2 separate regions of the Homo sapiens genome follow, and region 2 is linked to region 1. Evidence: fine-mapped expression QTL. A gene starts in region 1. The other region holds a variant in brackets. All regions are shown on one strand. Distances are from middle to middle. Region 1 holds the start of TTC28-AS1 (TTC28 antisense RNA 1). Region 2 overlaps TTC28 (tetratricopeptide repeat domain 28).

The links. PIP is the estimated chance that this variant, and not a neighbour inherited with it, causes the effect.
Region 2: its variant is fine-mapped to the expression of TTC28-AS1 in unexposed skin (GTEx, PIP 0.93).

The regions. Positions count from the first base shown.
Region 1 is chr22:27,918,249-27,920,748 of GRCh38, forward strand. It overlaps TTC28-AS1 (TTC28 antisense RNA 1), which reads left to right and starts at 1,128. Exons shown (of 5, transcript NR_026963.1): 1 at 1,128-1,297. It overlaps PITPNB (phosphatidylinositol transfer protein beta), which reads right to left and starts at 1,008. Exons shown (of 12, transcript NM_012399.5): 1 at 924-1,008. The coding sequence starts at 943. MIR3199-1 (microRNA 3199-1) reads right to left here and starts at 2,364; the gene lies at 2,277-2,364. It overlaps MIR3199-2 (microRNA 3199-2), which reads left to right and starts at 2,278; the gene lies at 2,278-2,363. RefSeq lists enhancers at 208-1,193, 1,194-2,178, 1,349-1,528 and silencers at 459-778, 969-1,038.
Region 2 is chr22:27,975,651-27,978,675 of GRCh38, forward strand. TTC28 (tetratricopeptide repeat domain 28) reads right to left here. Exons shown (of 23, transcript NM_001145418.2): 23 at 2,364-3,025. The region is part of intron 2 of TTC28-AS1 (TTC28 antisense RNA 1); the gene reads left to right. Among named protein-coding and RNA genes, the nearest start is that of MIR3199-1, 57 kb to the left of the region's middle. The variant TG/T (reference allele first, on the strand shown) is at 1,930.

The DNA.
Region 1 (2,500 bases):
AGGTGTCTGAAAAAAGCTAAATTAAGCCAAAAATATTTCTAAGAATTTAAAATGAAGAATTTGAAAACCAACGAATGGGCCATACTCGACCTCCCTAGCTGCCCAAAGGATGCTGACGACACGAACCAGCTGTGACAGACGAACATTCAGAGGCAAGCAGATTTCCGTAATGTTTACAGTCCTTGCCAGTAGGAAAAGCCGTGACTTTTCAACAAAATCACTTGGCCAGTCGGATGCACCTCGAAATCCCTCCATTTGACAGAGCACGTGTTAACTTCTAAGAAAGTAGGTGGGGCCCGGGATGTCACCTCATCTTAAAACATGCGGAAACCAAAAAGAGAAAAGGCTCTCCCGTCAAGTCAGCGGAGCTGCCCAGGAGAGCGGAGGCTTTCCGGAATCCCGGCTCCACCACGAACTTCAAGGCGCCAGCGTCCCACCGCGAGTCCTGACACGAGGGCTGCCTTCAACCGGCAAGCCCATCTCCCGCTGGTTACCAGGGGACTCCACCCCGGACGACAAATCACAGTCAGAACCAACGTGTCTCTCCCACCCTCGGACTGCGGCTCCTTCCCACCGGCGGGCCTGGGGGTGGGCCCAGACCCAGCCTGGGGGTGGGGGGTTGGGGAGAAGGCGGGTCCCAGCGGAAACTCCCGGCCGCGCCTTCCCGAGCCATGCGCTCGGGCCGGGACCCAGCCGCCTTCGCCCCGGGGAAGGGAGAGGGCGTGTTACCACGGCAATGCCTGGAGGGCCGAGGGGCGCACTCGCTGAGGGGCTTCGAAGGGGCCGGGGGAGGGAGGGGGCGCCCGCAGGGAGGGGCTGACACAGGGCTGACTCCGATTTAGGAATATCCTACCACTTCTCCATCAACAAATCTCCCATCACTGCCGTCCCACGGCCTCGCTCGCGCCCACAGACCCACTCACAATTCCTTGATCAGCACCATCTTCCCGGAACCCCCTCACAGCTGCCGCCGATACCACCGCCGCCGCCGCCGCTACCGCCTCTCACAGCGCCTGCGCGGCCCCGCCTCCCTGCCCCCCCGAGCCACCATCGCGCCTGCGTGCTTACACCCTTCCGCCGCGACCAGTCGCGTCAGCGCGCGAGGGGGCCTAGCTCCGCCCAGTTTCGTGCCCCACCCCGGGCACACGAGGCCTCCACTGCGGTTGCGCAGCCTGCCGAAGAGCGTGCGGCTTCTACTGCGGCTGCGCAAGCTCGACGCGCGCACTCTTGTCTGCTTACGAGGGCTCCTCCCTTCAGCTTTGGTCCCTCGGGGCGTCTGGGCAGCCTACGCTTTCCGGTGAGTTTTCCAGTTGGTTCTTTGGAAGCCGTTTTGCGGTGACTGGTTTTCTGCTCTCTCTCACTGCTCCGAGTCAGGGCCCACCTCCTTGACCGACACCTCACCTCCATAGTCCACATAAAAGACTCCTGACAGGTTCTGGAGGCAGCCGACGCCAGCTTCTGTTCCCCTCCCCAGCCCTTGGCAGCTCAGGTTCCGCGGGAGGACGTTCACCTGCTTCGCGGTCTCGTGGAGGTCCACCGCGGCGGAGAATCCTAAACCTCACCTGTGACTCGGCAGGATGAGCGGCCAGCACTCCCGACGGAGGCCCTCTGGGAGAAAAGAGGCCCTTGGCCTCGAGACCCAGGAAAGCGGGCTGTTCAGGAGTTGGTTCGCGCAGTTACACCGAAAGCGCCGTGGGCCTCAAAGCCGCAGCCCGGAGGTCGCTGGCTTGCTCTGTGTCAGACACGGTTCTAGGCAGTGGGGATGCATCTAGAAGCAGACACAGTCCCTGTTCTCAAGAAGCTCACAGTCTAGAGGAGACAACTCACTTGGAAAGAAAGCAGGGAGAATTTGGGGTGGTGGGGAAGTGCTATGCTATGAATACAGTGGAGTACTGGGAGAAGCAGAGGACTCAAGACAAGGGCTGTCTTAGGAGGCGGTGTTTGAGCCTAGCCTGTTAGGATGTGAGAGGGGCATTCCAGTTGGAGGGAAATATGACCCGAGGATGGAGTAAGCCTAGGGTGTTCAAGGATCAGCTAGAGGGCAGATGTGGCCAGAACATCCTAAGTGAGGGTGGGAAATGAGCTGGGACCAACTGGATTACTAGGCCATAGTAAAGAATTTGTCTTCTAAGAACCATGAGAACCTGTTGAAAGGCTATTAAGACGATTAAAATATCACGAAAACATTTTTGTATAAACATCTGGTGTATCTGATAGTGGAATACATCTGTGGAGTTAGGGCTGCCTCCAAAAAAATAACGGAAATGGACTGACTCAGTGACTCCCAGGGACTGCCTTAGGAGAAAGTTTCTGGAATGTCAGAACTTCCAGAAACTTTCTCCTAAGGCAGTCCCTGGAGTCACCGAGTTTCTCTTATGTGTGACTAGTGCTAGTTATTGTGAGGGCAGAGATTTAAGGAAATACACGCTCTTTCTTGCAAGAGTTGAGAAGCTTAGAATCCGCTTTGTTGATTGGACATTGGATTTTATGCCAAGTACTG
Region 2 (3,025 bases), 58 kb after region 1:
CATGTATGCACCTGGACCCTGAAAGGCGTTATTTTGTATTTTCATATATAGTGGCATAAAATCGTTTGTAGCGTTTTCTTATTCTTTGATCTCAGCTGCGTCTTTAGATAGCCTATTTTCCTTCCCTTTCCCTCTCTGACTCACACACACGCACGCCCACACACATGCACACACACGATTACCATTCCCAGAAATCAGTGTATTTGTCTTTTTGGCAAACTTTGCCCTTCTTAACCTTCTATATTGTCTTCTTTTATTTCTGACCTTTCTTATTCCCTCTTTTATTTTCTCTCTGGGTATATTATTCTTTTTCTAACTTCTTGAATTGGTCACCTAGCTCAGTAAGTAGTTTTTGTTTTTTCCTAACATACCTCAGTACTCCAGTCTCACAGTACCAGTGTCCTTCTTCGTCGCTTGGGGCTCTTGCAGTTACATAAATATTACCCTTGAATATAAACATTTAGGGCTATAAATTTTTCTTTAATATGTTGTATTCCACTAGTTTTATGGAATTATTAATTTTCTTTATAACATAATGTATACATTTTCTGAAAATAGCATGTAAGCAGAAATGAAAATAATTGTAATTTTATTTTATTGGGTGAAAGTGATAATTGCAAATTATAGGCGAGTATAGAATAAATAAGAAACACCACTGTCCTTAATAAAAGAAAAACTCAGATATTCCTAAGGTAAATCTGGAGGCATCCACCTGTTTTGATATGTTGTATTTTCCCATTTCTATTTTGAGTTCTTCCATGGGTCATATGCTATGTGGTCCATTTTAAAATGTCTAAGTGATTGGCTACTTTTTAGTTATCCTCTTGTTATTGTTGCCTGACTTAATTGTATTGTGCTCTGATTATGTGGTAGTAATTCTTCGATATTTGCTGAGACTTGCTATGTGGCCTGTGCATGGTCTATTTTCATGAAATATTCCATGTGTGCAGGTGAAGACCGTGGATTCACTATCTGAGACTGGGTTCTCCTTAACCGCATTTCAGAAGCCTGTTCACATAATTGTTTAAACCTACCACATGCTTTCTAACTTTTCGTCTGCTGATCTATCAAAAGAGTAGTGGCTTAAAACTTCCCATGATGATGTTTTTTCAAACTTGTAGTTCTGCCAATTTTCTTCATGAATTTGGAGGCTATGTAGTTAGCTGCATACAAATTTAGAATTTTGCCTTTTTGCCAAGTTTATCATTAGGAAGTGGATCTTTGTTTTTATTAGTGCCCCTTACTTTAATATCTAGTTTGCCAGTCCTTTTACTATCAGCCATTTGGGGGGGCCCTTATGCTTTGGTGGTTTTCTTTTCAAATAGCATATAGCCTTTTAAAGAGCATGTGGCTTATTGCCATCATCTGTTAATCTACTGCTTAATTGTTTAGTTCACTTACATTTATAATGATTACTGATATTTTTCTTTTGTCTTATTTTTTAATTTTAATTTTTGTGGGAACATAGTAGATGTATATATTTATGGGGCACGTGAGATGTTTTGATCCAGGCGTGCAATTCGTAATAATCACATCATGGAGAATGGGGTGTCCATCCCCTCAAGCATTTATCCTTTGTGTTACAAACAATCCAATTATACTTTTAGTTATTTGAAAATGTACAATTAATTTCATCTTATATTTGTCCTGCCTTTTAGATGGTTTTTGTTGTTCCTTCCTTTTTCTATTCCTTTACATCAACCAGGGTTTTACAAAATGAATCTGTTTCTCTTCCACTGACTAGTTTGGAAGTATAACCCTCTACTTCAATGTGTGTGTGTGTAACTACATATATTTAACTTACTCTAAAAATAATATACAATTTGTTCCTAAACTTATAGCACTTTAACTCCCATGTTTTACATATTATTGTCTAGTATTTTTTGTTAGCCGAATGAAACATTACTCTTTTTATAAAGGCAATATTTG[TG/T]TTCATTTATGCATATTTACCCAATTCTTTACTATTCCTTCATGCTTCTCACACTTTTGCATATAGAATTATCTTCCTTCTTTCTGAAATACTACCTTGGAAGTTTTGTTAGATGATATAGGGATCTGGTGGTGATGAACTCTGTTTCTGTTTGTCGAAATACGTATTCAACTGTCGAACTTTCTGGCCCTCCAACTATGAGTAGCGTCTAAATTACCCCCCCACCGACAGTGCCCCCAGACCAGAGACGTGCGGGACAGCTCTGCTGCATGCATGGTCGTGCTCTCTGCTTGGCGGATGTGAGGCTATGGTGTAGAGGTGGGGTTAAAACTAGAGAGATACGTGCTCAGTAATGACACACGGCCCACTCCATGTACTGCAAAGAAACCTAGACAGTGTGGAAAGAGTAGAGAAAGTGATCCAGATACAGCACTTAAAACTGAGGGAACTCATGCTTTAATAGACACTGAAAATCACAAAGGAGGAAGGCCAAGTGCCTTAGCAATCTCAATAAAAATATGAAGTTCTTTTTACATGGTAAATTTCATAATATAAAAAGTTTAATGTCTGGAAATGGTGTAATTTACAAAAAAAGTCCACGTAGGCCAAAGATGGCTAACACTGCATATAAGGAACGTGAATGCCAGTGGGAAGGTGTCTGAGGAGGGGCAGGGCCACAGGTGTCCTGACAGGGAACATCTTTGAAGGATCTGGCACAAACAAGGGCCCAGTTCACAAACCACAGGTACACTCATTTTAGATAGAACAGCAGAATAGGTGATGAAAATTATACAGTTTTCACTTGTTGCCTACTTACTGAAAGCAAACCAGATTATTGCATGGCATTTTTCCAGCCTGAACTGAAATTATCAAGGCTACAGTTCTTCTTGTGGGTCTGCAAATGTGTGTGGCTGGGAGGTGGCAGAATCGGCACGGGCCAGGGACCGGCTGCAGTGATCATATGCTGGAGCGTCACTGGGACAGAGAGAGCAGGATGAGGACAGCGTGGGTGACACCTTTGTCTCCTGCTAAAACCCAGCAAGTTTCAGTGTGGACCGTGAATTTTTAAAAAATGGAATGGAGGTGAAAACTTTC